Linked DNA regions of Homo sapiens: region 2 is linked to region 1. Evidence: fine-mapped expression QTL. Tissue or cell type: esophagus muscle. Region 1 holds a variant in brackets; the other region holds the start of a gene. All regions are shown on one strand. Distances are from middle to middle.

Region 1 (7,332 bases):
ACACAGGGCCTGGGAGGCTGCCTTCCAGTTCTTACCTTGCTGTCTGATCGGAGTCAAGTCTCTGCCCTCTCTGAACCTGAGTTCCACAGCAAATGGGGGTGACACTTTCCAGCCCATTGCTTGGTAACACAGGGAAGACTTCCTCCAAATGTAAGAATCCATACATAAATAAAGGATGGTATTATGAAAATGGAAGAGCTCTCTTAGTACAAATAGTTTCTAAGTATTCATTTCACTTATTTAATTAAAAAAAGATAATCATTACATTTCCAAAGGCACATTACTGGATTTTAAAATACACTTTCTTCTTGCTTCTCCCAAAATATAATCTTTCCATTTCAATTAGTCTTTTATTTAAAATACTTTTCAACCTTTTTTAAAACAAAATAAAACTTAACCTGTTCCAGCAAACCAAATTATTTCATAGCTCTTTTTTAAAAAATGTGCAAACACATATTAAGCTTTCAAAACTAAGGCACATGGGTTATTATTCACTATCAAAGTTTCTAGGCTTTAACAGCTCAGTTCTGCCCAACTCCTACAAATAGTGGGTGGAATTTGGTGAAACGTTTATTGCCAACACTCAACAGAGAGCAGCTGGATCAGCTGACACAGCCACAAATATCTTGGAAGAAGAAACTTCAGGGCTGGTAAGGTATGTTTCATCTTCTGCTTCCCTAACTCCAATATCCATTGCTGGAAGCCAATTTCAATTCTGGGCAACTCATGTCAACAACAGATTACTGCGCACCTAGCAAGGCACTGTGTAGGGCTGGGCATGGTGGCTCACACCTGTAATCCCAGCATTTTGGGAGGCCGAGGCAGGTGGATCACCTGAGGTCAGGAGTTCGAGACCAGCCTGACCAATATGGTGAAACACCGTCTCTACTAAAATTACAAAAATTAGCCGGGTGTGGTGACACGTGCCTGTAGTCCCAGCTACTTTGGAGGCTGAGGCAGGAGAATTGCTTGAACCCGGGAGGCGGAGGTTGCAGCCGAGATCGTGCCACTGCACTCCAGCCTGGGCAACAGAGCAAGAATCCGTCTCAAAAAAAAAAAAAGAGTAACAAATACACAACTGCTTCTTAGAAAATAACTGGTCTTGGGTCTTCAAGTCTCCCCTCATGTGAGAGGCTGTATTGTTCTAGTAAACACAGTCATCCCTCCGTATCCAAGGGGGATTGCTTCCAGGACCTCCCTCAGATATCGAAACCCACAGATGCTCAAATCCCTGCTAAGAAATGGAGTAGTGTTTGCATATAGCCTATGCATAGCCTCCAGTATCCTTCAGGTCAACTCTAGATTACTTTTTTTTTTTTTTTTTTTTAAGACAGGCTTTCACTCCATCACCCAGGCTGGAGCGCAGAGGCGTGATCAAGGTTCACTGTAGCCTCAATCTCCCTGGTTCAGGTGATCCACCTGCCTCAGCCTCCTGGGTAGTTGGGCTTACAGGCACCCGCCACCACGCCTAGCTAATTTTTGTATTTTTTGTAGAGATGGAGTTTTGCCATGTTGCCCAGGCTGGTCTTGAACTCCTGGGCTCAAGCCATCTGCATGCCTCAGCCTCCCCTGTACCCATTCAGTACAGACATAATTTTTTCTCTTAGTATATTTGATTCGAGGTTGGTTGAATCCATGGATGTGGAACCCATGAATACAGAGAGCCAAATGTATTCACTTCTCTCCCTCTTGAGGTGGCGTGCCCTTCCCTGTCCCACTGACATGTTGTGTGCCTTCCTTGGACAATGGAGTCTTCGCCACAGGCAGAGGTTGTAAGGGATACTGCATGTCTCAGCTCTAGGCCATGGCGGCCAGTAAGTACCACAGGTAGCTGCCCTCCCTTCAGCCTGGGTCCTGGAAAAACATTTGAGGAGACCTGAACCTGAACCAACGCCCGGGGCCGAGCCTTGCCTAATCCGCAGAGCTGCCCCAGATGTCCCACAGACACACGAGAAAAAGAAATGCTGCTTGTTAAGGGCCACAGAGGTTTTTGAGGGTGCTTGTAATACGGCATCATCAGACAACAGCTGCCTACTACCTGTCATCAGCTCACTTTATACTCGGATGCCAGATCAGTCCTCCTAGGGCTGAATTCCAGCCCTCTCAATCTCCTGTTCAAGCATCGTGCTCCAGCAGCTGAGTCAAGTCCCTCTTTCCTAGATGGGCATCCAAGGGCCTCTCAGTGTGGCTGCCAGCTAATTTCTTCAGCCTTTTCTCTCATTTCTCCCCTTTACGGGAATTGGTCTAAAATGACCATCCTGAGTGCTACGACCTTGTCAAGTACTTCTTTATGATGTTAGTTATCTTTTCATAACTACGTGGAAAACTCGTTAAGGGCAGGGAACGAACCTGTGTGAAATTTCTTTGCCCTCTACGTGCACATAGCAGCCACTCCATAAGTGCTTCTGGATTCATTGTAAACACTTGCTTCACAAAGCGTTCCACAGAGATGGCTGGATTCCTCACCTGACTCTCCATGTCCAGCCCTGGGCCCTGGCACTGCCATGAAGCACTGTGGACGTCCCAGCCTGCAGTAAGCCACGGCAACATCCACTTCAGACACCCAGGGGGACGATGGCCCCACGGTCTGGGGTGTGCAGGTACTTTCCAGAGAGCTCAGTGACTAGCAAAGGGTGCAGACATGACTGGTGGCTTGGACCCGAAAGCATGGATTAGATTGTTTGATTGATTTTTAAGTTTAGTTACAGGACCTGTTGCTTAAACCACAAAGAAACGACTAAACTCCAGACACTAAGACAAAACTGACAGGCTAGCACGAAGGGGCTGGTGCCCTCAGCAGCAGCAGAACCCAGCCTGGGTACGTAGCACTCCAGAAAGCTCAGAGGAAGCATCCTCATGGCGGGTGAAGAGTAAGCAGCTCCCTGCATGCTCAGGAGCCCGGCCTTCCTGACACTTTCACACACCCCGCCAGGCTGGATGCCCTGCCTGCCCTGAACATCCCTGAGCTTCTGTCCTACCGTTCAGTACCCCAGGTAGTCTATACACTGTAACTCCTATTTAGCCTTGGCAACTCAGCATAGGGACAAACTGGGGAATCTGCGCTCTCCCAGAACCTGCACACAGCTCCCGGTGGCACTGAATGCGTTTTTTTTTTTTTTTTTTTGAAACGGAGTCTTGCTCTGTTGCCCAGGCTGGAGTGCAGTGGTGCCATCTCGGCTCACTGCAACCTCTGCCTCCCAGGTTCAAGCGATTCTCCTGCCTCAGCCTTCCTAGTAGCTGGGATTACAGGTGCTAATTTTTGGATTTTTAGTAGAGACGGGGTTTCACCATGTTGGCCAGGCTGGT[T/C]TCGAACACCTGACCTCAAGTGACTGGCCCACCTTGACCTCCCAAAGTGCTGGGATTACAGGCGTAAGCCACCATGACCAGCCTGAATGCATTTTTTTTTTTTTTTGAGACAGAATCTCGCTCTGTCCCCAGGCTGGAGTGCAGTGGCACAATCTTGGCTCACTGCAACCTCGAGCCTCCCGGGTTCAAGCAATTCTCCTGCCTAAGCCTCCCTAGTAGCTGGGATTACAGGGGTGTGCTACCATGCCCAGCCAATTTTTGTATTTTTAGTAGAGACGCGGTTTCACCATATTGGCCAGGATGGTCTTGATCTCTTGACCTTGTGATCTGCCCGCCTCGGCCTCCCAAAGTGCTGGGATTACAGGCGTGAGCCACCGCGCCCAGCCCTGAATGCATTCTTTATCTCTGCCTTCCCCAGCCAGAATGAAGACGCTGCCTACCAAGAATGGTGCATTTTAATGGTCACTTTGGAGATGTGGAAAATACAAAAATGGGCAATGAAGAAATCACTTACACACATGCACATACACACAGAAAGCATGTGCATGGGCCCTGAAGTCACTTTCTGTAACTCATCTTTGGACTTCACAGGACCTCATAATATCAAATAGTGCATGTTTCCTTGCATCGTTCTAGGTTTGAAATGTTATTGTTTGTTGTTTGTATATTCTTCTAATTACATTTCACAGCTATTTTATCTTGCCCCCCGACTCATAATTCATTAAATTTAAATAAATTTGTGGAGAGTACATGTCTTGATTTTTATTACAATTCCTAACTGATACATAGTATGCTATTTTAATGTATTTATTAGGTAACTGATAAACCTACTAAACATAAAAAAACTAGTTCTAATGTTTGTTGGTACTGTTATTATTGCTCTTGTCAGCTACAAAATATGGTGATTTTGTTTCTTCTTTTTTGATAGTTATATATTTGTGTTTATTTTCCTACATTACCACATTAATTAGAAAAGATATTGTAAAATATTAGTAATGATACTAGACATCCTAATTTGTTCCTAATTTTAATGTAAATCATGGCAGTGTTTTGCTATAAAGAAAATGTTAGCTTTTTTCCTTTTTAACATAATGTTAAAGAAATATTCTTCTGTATTAGTTTTTAATCGTATAGCAATAGTTTTATATAGCAAATTACCAGAAATGACGGACTTTCAAACAACATGAACTCATTATCTCGCGATTTTTGTGGGTCAGGAGCCCCGTGCGCTGCGGCCAGGGCAGCCTCTCCATCTGCAGTCAGGGCCTCTCCCGAGCTCCATGCTGGAGGCGGGATTCACCGCCTTCCATCCTGCTCCGAAACGGCACCCAGGCCTCCTGCGCGGCATCTCTCCAGCTCTGCTCTTGAGGGCTCTTGGAATTACACTGGGCCCCTTGGATAATCCAGGATAAACTCTCTCAAGTCAGCTGATTAGTCACCTTTTATGACATCTACAAAGTCCCTTTTGCCAAGCAACGTGACATAACCATTGGAGCAACCCGGGGGGTGTGAGGGGAAGGGGCAGTCATGGGGGCCAGAATTCTGCCTACCACACCTTCCAATCTGGATACACTGAGTTCTATAGCTACAAATGAATGTCTTGGCCAGGTGCGGTGGCTCACGCCTGTAATCCCAACACTTTGGGATGTCAAGGTGGGCCAATCACTTGAGGTCAGTAGTTCAAGACCAGCCTGGCCAACATAATGAAACCCCATCTTTACTAAAAACACAAAAATTAGCCAGGCGTGGTGGTGCACACCTGTAATCCCAGCTACTCGGGAGGCTGAGGCAGGAGAATCACTTGAATCTGGGAGGCGGAGGTTGCAGTGAGCTGCACTCCAGCCTGGGTGACAGAGCAAGACTGTCACAAAAAATACAAAACAAATGTCGCATTTTATCAAATCCCTTTTTATTATCTATTATCATGATCACATATACCTTTTATCTTTTGACCTATTGATATACTAATAGTTTTATTAACATTAAAAAATCACATTCCTGGAATACATCCTTCCATGTCATGACTAATTCTTTATTATACTGGTAGATTAAGTTTGCTATGTCTTCACGTTGGCTTGTTGTAATGTTTATAAATAAGGGTGGGGGTTTTATTCTGCATGTTATTTTTGTAAGGTTTTGGTGTTAGGGTTATACTATTTTGGTGAAATGAACTGAAAAACCATTCAACCTTTCCGAAGCTCTCAGACACTACTCAGAACATAGGAAGTAAGCTGTCTGGGCCCAGCACCTTTCTCACATGGTTCTTCATAAAACTTTTCAGTTTTTCATGGCTAGTAATCAATTCCAGTTTTCTACTCACTCCTTGGCCCATTTTCCTATACAATCATGTTTCACTGAGATTTTTCAAATCAATTGGCATAGAGTTAACACAACGGCAAAATAATATATTTCTCAATAATTATAGAAAACCATCTCACCTATATTTGTTTCATTTGAATCTGTTACTTGCACTTTGTTAATTTCTTTGTCTTACCAGACGTTAATGCCTTGGTTGGTTGTTCTCCAAAGAATTAGATTTGGCAACCTATTGGTTGCTGTTTTCTAAGTCATTGTTTTCTTATGGTTTCCCTTAAGTTTATTTGCTGCTCTTTTTCTGCCTTCTGGAGATGGATGCTTTGTTCATTTATTTGCTTCTAAGTTCAGTTTATTTTTTGTACTAGACTTTTTAAAGTATTTTATTTCATTGGCCATCCACCATTAAAGTAAACTTCCTGTTTGGGGAGAACCCCAAAATAGGTGGGAGGCAGGGCCCCATCCTCCCATCCTCATTATAGATGCTGAGTGTGGGGCAGTCGCCACCTTCGCCTGGCTGTCTGCTTGGGCGTGGAAACAAAACAGGCCAAGGGCTCCCACCCAGGTGTCTGAATCCGGAGTTGTGGTCTTTGAAGACAGTCAGAGTTTCGTCGAGAGCTGCAGCAGAGGGAACTCAGTGGTGGTGCCGCAAACGTCCTACCTGTGGTACTTGCCTCCTGCAACATCCTGCTGCAGATGCAACTGGCCGTGCGGGGCTGCCCAGCCTCCTCCACTGTTCCTGGTTTCTGAGCCTCATTCTCCAGCCTCCTTGTTGATTCTACCGGCAACCCGACAGTCTTCTGGTTCATTCCTCTTCTGCTTAGATTAACTATTTCTCATGTTTAAAATGTAGAATTCTGAATGGCATGGTTTTCTTTTGCATTGTTCTTACTGCCATTTTCTAAATATTTTACAACTGCAGTTTTGAAGTTTCTGTCACCCAAGATTTATGAAAAGCCTCTTTAAAAAGCTTCTTTACAAAGATTTATAAAAGTTTTTTAAAGTTTTTTTTAAAAGCATTACAATTAGGTATGTTTGTACATTTCTATCTTTGTGATTCATTTCTAGTTTTATTGTTTCATCAGATGACATTTTCAGTGTGATATCTGCCTTTAGAACGCTGGAAAGTGTTTTGGGCTTAATATGATTAATTTTTGTAAATGTTCCATGAATGGTTGAACATGGTAAGTACACTTTGTAAAAACGAAGTTCAACATACATTTATTATACTTATACACTGGCATACTCTACTTACAGTTTGTTGACCTGAGCCATGAAAAACAGATGTATGCTATTATTTCTCACTAGCATTATGTAACAAATTACCTTTGCATTTTCTAACAACCTTTACTTTATATATTTTGATGCAATGTTATTTGGTGCATAAATGTTGGTAATTTAATTCTACTCTTAACCAATATAAAATTACTCTTTAACCTGTGTAATATGATAAATACAATACTGTCTGCCTTGAGTTCTCCTTGGTCTGCTCTTAATAATGATCCCTGGGGACTGGCTCATATTTTCACATACTTAGTTATTGTCACAGCACTTAACACATAGATGCTTATTCAATGTTGGTGAAATGAAGAGATAGCGGAAACCAGGAGAATCAGTAAAGTCCTGTTTGTTTTGGTTCCAACAAGGATACGAATCTCAGCTCCCTCCACTCCCCTCCAATGACCTGCTTTCCTATGAGAAACTAATAGCCCC
Region 2 (7,332 bases), 220 kb after region 1:
TTGTGCCACTGCACTCCAGCCTGGACAACACAGTGAGACTCTGTCTCCAATAAAAAGCTATCTAGACATGATGGCCAGGTGCAGTGGCTCACACCTATAATCCCAGCACTTTGGGAGGCCAAGGCGGGAGGATCACTTGAGGCCAGAAGTTCAAGACCAGCCTGGGGAACATAGGCAGACTCCATCTCTATAAAAAATTAAAAATAAATTTTTAAAAAAGCTATCTAGACATGAAATTAAACAATCAAAATAGAGGACCACATAACTAGAGGAAGGCAGGAGAAAGGCAGGCCAGGGGCAGGCAGTACTGGCATTTCCTCTGGATCTCGCTTAGGGATTGGCCTGTTGGTATTTTCTTCCTCTGTATGGGGTTAACTTGTTCTTTGGTCTCTAGCAAATTAATTTGGTCAAATTGGTTATTTAATTTATGAATAAAGAATTTGAAAGCAATACAGTGACAAATATTCTCAGCTAAACCATAATATTCTGTAGCTCGAATAGCCTCTGATTTTTCCAAACAGAGGCATCATACTAGGATGGGCCTCTTGTTTTCTTGAAATGTCAAATTGCCTAGTTGAAGCAACAACCATGGAGAGCAAACACACACACATATACACACATACGCTCCCACAGAGCTGATATAAAAAAGATGCTGCAAATAGCAGCTAATAAAATCCCGGCGCACACATTTATTCCTACAGTCATCAGTTAACATAACACTGACACAGAGAAAGATCCTTAACAACCTGCTAGTGAGGACTTTTGGGAACTCTTGAAAAAACACACGCAGAGATCAAGAAACGAAAATGAATTTATGATGGTTTGGTTAGAAGCTATGTTTGAATGAAGAAAATAAAAGATGTTAAGTAATAACTGGGGGGATCCCTAAGCATACAGTGGGGACTTGGGTATATACAGAAAATGAAATATTCATCATCCTCCATGGAGCACACTTGTGGCTGAAGCTCTGCAACAGAATCACAAAATTAACCCATTTTCTCCACAGTTAAAATCGCTAAAAAGAGCAAAAGTGCCAATTTGGATCTGTTCAAGATTTTTTTTAAAAAACTGTAGGAACACAGTTAATACTCTGCAACTAGAGGACCACCTGTAACTAAATTCACCATTAGAGAGATGGCATTTCTGTTAAACCACATGGCATCACGCTTCCAGTGCCAGTGTTCATCCTAACAGATAACGTAAACTCATGGGGAACCTCTATGCCCCTTCTTCCAGTTTCCAAGGTCTGTAAGGACAAGAGGCTGCTCTCAATGGGGGCCCATGGGAGCAACAGCAGCATGAGTAGAGTGTGTCTCCCTGCCACTCTGAATGCCTGTTCACACCCTTCCCCTCCCGTCCACAGGTCTCCCCACTGACTCTACCTACTAGTGTCAAACAGACACAGAACCTAAACATCAAGGGGGACCCGGGAACTGCACATACCATCGGAAATGGGGAAGAGGAGTTGTGTGTGAGAAGGACTGGGGAAGGGGAATTCGCTTAAATCAGAGATCCTTCTCATCGCCTGGTCTAACTCAGTCCTCTTAAAACTGCTAATCAGCGCACAGTGTCCAGATACAAAACGTTTCTCCTGAGAGTCAGAGGGCTTTGAGCGACAAGTATTACGTTGTCAAGAGATCATTCATTTCCAATTGAGACAGCATTTGGAAGAGCAAAAGCCAGGCACAAAATTAGAGCCTATTAATCCTAATCAGAAACAAAAGTAAATAAATTCAAAAGGTTTTAATTGAGCCTACCCAACAGGAGGAGGCGGAGACTGAAGGAGTATCAAGCCCAATAATAACCAGGATTTGGGAAGCCCAAAGAAGAGCTCCCTATAAATATATTGCTTTCTTTAAATTCTGAGGGGAAAAAAGTAACTCCACCTTTCATTGAACATAGGATACCAGAAATTACATAAGGAGTTGCATTCCAAATGTTGGATGCAAAAAAAGCAACCAAAATTGATTGGAATGTGGTTTAACTGCTTTATCTAATCACTGCTAATAAATAAGAAGACCTTTCATTAGTTGGCAGGAGGACAGTTGCTACTGGCCAATTTGATTTTCCTGAAAACGGTGAAGACTTGCATGCGCTTTTTATCCCCCCAGATATAATCCCTGAAGTCCAGACTGTTTCTGGAATCGGAAGTTGTCACGTAGTGTCATCCTCTTCCTTAACAGACCTAAGGTCTCCTTTCACATGTTCCCAAATTGTTTGTTTTGGACACCTTTTATTGCAACCTTTTTGAAAGTGAAGAGTTTAGAAACCTCATGGCAAATAAGAAATTGTTAATCCAGAGTGAGCATGTAGGAGGCTGGAGAATGCAATGATCTATCCAGGGCACACTAGGCAGCCGACACTTTGAAACCTGAAATAGCCAAGATTCCTCAATTATTCGTCGAAGTTACATGGGAGATTCAGTCAACTGAGCTTAAGAAGATGCCCTATATGTTGTCAGCAAGGGGGAAAAAGTCAGTTCCATGTATCCCTGACTTAGGAATCTATCGCACCCCACCTTCCCACGGCAGGCTACATCTGGGCTGATTTGCTGGGTCCCCAAACTCGGTAGAGAGCGCCCCAAGGATCAGGGACCGGCGGCCCCACCTGCTGGGTCCCATCCGCCACCTGGATTGGCAAGGCCTGGCCCCCCTTGCAAGTGGACCCCTTCCCTCCCTGCTCCCAGAAGCCCAGCCCAGAACGGCGTTCTTTCCGGGGGCCCAAAAGCAATCAGACCTTTAAAAGAAAAAAGAGGGAGCGCAGACTGGCATTATATAACAATTTACAGTAGATAAGACTTCTAGAAAACGAAAGCAGCCCGAGGAGGGGCGGGGGACAGGGGAGACCAGGGGAGTGCGGCGTCGGGGGAGCGGTCGCCACCACTTACTCGAAGGCGAAGAAGAGTCCGCTAGTGACCAGGATGAGGACGAGCGTCAGGTAGAAGACGCCCGTCTGCCGGGCCATCATGATCCTCCCGTTACAGAAGAACTTGTTTCTTCCCGGGAACACCTCCCATTTCCTCCGGGCCGCGATTTTCTTCTTCTTGTGGGGCGACTCCATGGGGGAGGAGCTGTGGGTGCTGATCTGGCTGTACTCGCAGTCTTTCATGGGCCCGCCGCCGCCGGGAGGCATCCACGAGGGCAGCCGGCTGGGGGCGCACACCCCCAGGAGCCCCCCGGCCGCGCGGGCCCCGCCGAGCCACGACCGCCGCCGGCCGCCCGGCCGCCCCCCGAGCCGCGGCGCCGCGGCCCCTACACGGGCTCCCGGCTCGGCGACAACTTTGCCGAGGACACCCAGGTTAACCCTCCGGGGAGCCCAACTGTCATAGCAGAATCCCCGCTCCGTGAGGGGACGGCGCTGGTCCGCAGCCCGCGGCAGCACTCCTCCGTCGCTTCCAGCCCGCGTCCCGGGGCGCGGGGCTCAGCCCGGCCGGCCCCCGGGTCGCCGAGCGCCCGCCCCCTCGCGCGGCTGCCCGCTCGGCCCCGCAGCCCCCGGCTCCCCGGCCGCGCCTCGGCTCTGGCCCGCCGACCCCCGAGCACTGCGCCCCGAGGGGACACGAGGCGGCGGCCCCGGCGCCGGCTTCCTCGGGAGCCACTTCTGCGGCGCGGCCAGGTTGGGTCCACTCCTTCCTCCGGCAGCGGATCCTCCCAGGAGAGAGCGCTGGCGACTGGGCGGCCGCGCGCGGCACCGGCAACCCCTCCCAGGGGTGGGGACAACCACGCACGTTTTTCTGTCAGGAGCCTCTCGGCGAGAGCCGGGGCGCCGCTCGCACCGCGACCCGGTGTCGCTGCGCCTGGCAGCCTAGTCGAATCCGCGGCCCCCGCGCGGGGATGCGCGGGCCGAGGGCGGCGGCGGCTCGCGGGCCGCGCGGCGAGGGCTCCCTTGCTCCCTCCTACCCGGAGGAAGCGGCCCCGGCGCGAGGAGGGCCGCGGGGACACAGCACAGACACTTGTTTGCAAGGCTCAGCCCGGCGCGCGCGCGGCGCTCCGAGTGGGTCCGCCTCCTCCGGGCCGGGTGGGCGGTGGCCTCGCGCCTCACCCGCGGCTCCTCCTCCTGCTCCTCCTCCTCCTCGCCCGCGAAGCCAGGGCACCGGCGCAGCGAGATTCCAGCCCCAGCCCCCTCGGGCGGGCGCCCTGGGGTGTGGAAGGCGCGGGGCTCCCTGTGGCATCGCCCAAGTAGGGATGGGGTCGGGCGCCCGCGGCCCCGCCGCGCAGTGCGCTCCTGGCCGACTTCAGTCCGTCTCGCGGCTTCTTCCGGGTTTATCCCGCGCAGCAGCTGCCGCCTCGGGACACGCTCATTCCCACGGCCACCGGCAAGCCACTCCTGGCGACTCCCCGGGACCTGAGGAGCCGCGGCGCGGAGGTGACCCTCCCCGGCCTGCGCCTCCCTTCTTCCTCCTCCCCAGCTGGGCGCGTGGTCGCGTCGCCCGGGGACTCTGGTGATGCCCGAGAAATGGGCTGGGGGTGCCGGGTGCCAGGATGGGGTGGGGCGGCCCTAGGCCGGCCTGACTTCGGGACCGGGCTGCGGGCGAGGGTCTCGGGGCCCGGCTCGGCCGGCTTCCGGGCCGAGAAAGAAGGGCAGAGGAAGCGGTCAGGGTCCCCTCCGGCCCCGGCCTCCCTCCCGGAGTATAAGCCCTTGGAGGCCAGGTTTTGGGTTGCTGCCGCCCAGCTCTTTCGGTCTCCACTTCTCCCCACGGACGTTTACAGCTGCTCGCTTTATTTCTCCCTCCATTCCCCCGTGGAGCCCCCTCGGCAGCGGAGGGGTCGCGTGCTTCTCCTCTCCCGCCTGCGCCTCCCCCCTTCCCACCCGACAGCCCAGGAGGAGCTGCGGGCGCGGCCCTGGGACGGCCGGAGCCTGGGGCTTCTGCTCGCTCGCGCCCTCCCAGGCGTTGCCGCGGGTCCGAGCCCCCGCAGAGGTGGGCATAGCCCCGGGGCCGCAGAAAACGAAGGCAGCTGGGCAGGGATGCTCAATTTCCCGAGCCCCACTTTCCTTTCACAGCCCACTGGGATGTGTAGTTCTTCCGCCCGCAGGCCTGCGCCGAGGAGAAGCACGACTCGGGGCCTTAGAAACTACAAGTCCCTGCATCCCCCGCGACAAGGGCAGGAGAGGCGTGGTGCTGGGCGTTCTGGGGCTAGGTGGTGGGAGATGGGAACCAACAAAGGGGGTTGTGGGGAACGGTGCCTTCTCTGTACTGGGCAGTTTGCACGTTACACATGTTCTTTGTCTAATCTTCGCCGGAACCCGGTGAGGCATTATTGTATCCAGCTTAGAGAAAGCTTAACTACTGGCCAAACATCACAAAGCTCCCAAGTAGTAGAGATGGCATCGAACCCAGAGCCCTAAGTATGTCCCTTACAAAGCGTGCCTCAGTGAGGAGTGTCGAAGGGGGATGAGATTGGCTTATCCAAGAGGGCCAGTTGGGAGGAGCTGTGGTAAGGAAAAAGTGATGGGAATAGCAATTAGAGTATGACATGCAATTACAAGGAGTTTTGAATACAAGTGAAATTTACAGGGGTCCATTCCAAAGCCGGTTAGAGTCTAGGGAGAATGGATCTTAAGCACACGATAATAATTGGGTTTTAATTATTTTAGATATTGTATGAGAGACAAGCATATTACAGGGACAATTAAGTATTTGTGGCTGGACTAGTTTTAAAAAACCAACTGGAAAGCTTCATACATTTCAAGTGAAAGCTCTCATATGCTTTCCTGTCCTTTAGCTAATGAGATCAACGGGGTATTATTCTTATTCTGTTTATTGCAAGCACCTTTTCTGTGGGTGTCCAATTAATATAATAGATCCATTGATTTGATGGCATTAAAAAAGACTCCCACTCTTATTCTCAATGAAACCGAATTTTTCTGGCATTATGGTTATGCTTTTAAAAAGTCCTTCCTTGTCTGTTAGAGATATGTACTAAAGTATCTGCCAGCGAAATAATATAAAGTCTGAAATGTGCTTTAAAACACACCAGCCCATCCACTCCCCTCCTCCCACCCACCCAGCTCCAGACATGGAGGTATAAATGAAACAATTGGAAACTGTTGAAAATAGTTGACCTTGGGTGACATGTACTTGTACTTAATTATTTATTGCTGCAAATTGCCACAAACGTAGTGGCCTTAAAACAAGACAGATTTTTCTCACAGTTTTTATGGATCAGGTGTCCAGGTACACTCAGTCCCCCACTTAGGGTCTCACGCCTGCCATCAAGGGGCTGGCCAGGCTGCGTTCACATTCACTGGAGAAGAACTGGCTTCCACTCTGACTCCGGGCACAGGCAAAATTCCTTTCCTTGCAGCAGTAGGACCGAGGGCCCTGGCTTCTTGCTGGCTGGAGACTGGAGACTGTCCTCAGCTCCAAGAGGGAACCTGCAATTCCTAGAGGTTACCTGGACTTCATTGTCACTTGGGCTTTCCGAGCACAGCCACTTATTTTGTCAGGCCTGCAAGGAGAGTCCCCAGAGTGAGTCTCCAGCAAGACAGAATTTTATATAACATAAAGCAATCCCACGGGGGCAACTTCAAATGTGAACATTCTGTTGGCCAGAAAGCATGTTTTGCACACACTCAAAGGGAGAGGAGTACACAGGGCATGAACCCTAGGGTGAGGGACACCCCGGAGTGCATCCACCACAGTGTACATGAGAGTCCATTATGCTTTTCTTACCTACCACATCTACTCATGTTTATGTTTGACATTTTCCATAATAAAAAGAAATGAATTCGTTTTAAAATGTTACCTAAAGTTTCCACAGCAAATAAGATATGCTGATATGATTTCTAAATAGCTGATACAATTGTCTGTAGTTGTCTTCCAGGGGATAACTTTTTTCTTCCCACTCCATGTGTACTAAGACCTCTGCGGTTAATTCACTTGTATGGGTTACCCTCCCCTAAGAGCGTTCACTAGAACCTGGTGTGTGATAGCTGCAGAGTTCACCTCACCAGCTACAGTTGATCTTGAACAATATGGGTTTGAACAGCGTGGATGCCCTTAGACACGGATTTTTTTCAACCAAATGCAGATGGAAAATACAGCATCCGTGGGATGGGAAATGCGAGTATTCAGAGGGCAAAGGCCCACTCTTCCTATATGCAGGTTCTGTGGAGCCTGTTTAAGGACCTGAATATGTGCAGATTCAGGTATACGCAGGTGATCCTGGAACCAATCTCCTGAGGATACTGAGGGATGACTGTAAAACCTACTGTATAAGGGATGGTAGAGTTTATTCATTTATTTTACAGTTATCTATTTCAGGGCCTAGATTGTGCTAAGTACTGTTTTAGCAGCAGTGATACAAAAAGATCCAAGATAGAAGCTTATATTTG

The links. PIP is the estimated chance that this variant, and not a neighbour inherited with it, causes the effect.
Region 2: it holds the start of ZDHHC14, and the variant in region 1 is fine-mapped to the expression of ZDHHC14 in esophagus muscle (GTEx, PIP 0.92).

Annotation. Positions count from the first base shown.
Region 1 is chr6:157,598,282-157,605,613 of GRCh38, reverse strand. All of the region lies in intron 3 of ZDHHC14 (zDHHC palmitoyltransferase 14), which reads right to left. Among named protein-coding and RNA genes, the nearest start is that of MIR3692, 73 kb to the right of the region's middle. The variant T/C (reference allele first, on the strand shown) is at 3,307.
Region 2 is chr6:157,377,822-157,385,153 of GRCh38, reverse strand. ZDHHC14 (zDHHC palmitoyltransferase 14) reads right to left here and starts at 3,964. Exons shown (of 9, transcript NM_024630.3): 1 at 2,888-3,964. The coding sequence starts at 3,132. LOC124901446 reads left to right here and starts at 4,063. Exons shown (of 1, transcript XM_047419644.1): 1 at 4,063-5,840. The coding sequence starts at 4,453. The coding sequence ends at 5,343. RefSeq lists enhancers at 2,907-3,046, 3,805-4,416, 5,028-5,640 and silencers at 3,137-3,186, 3,697-4,586, 4,747-4,826.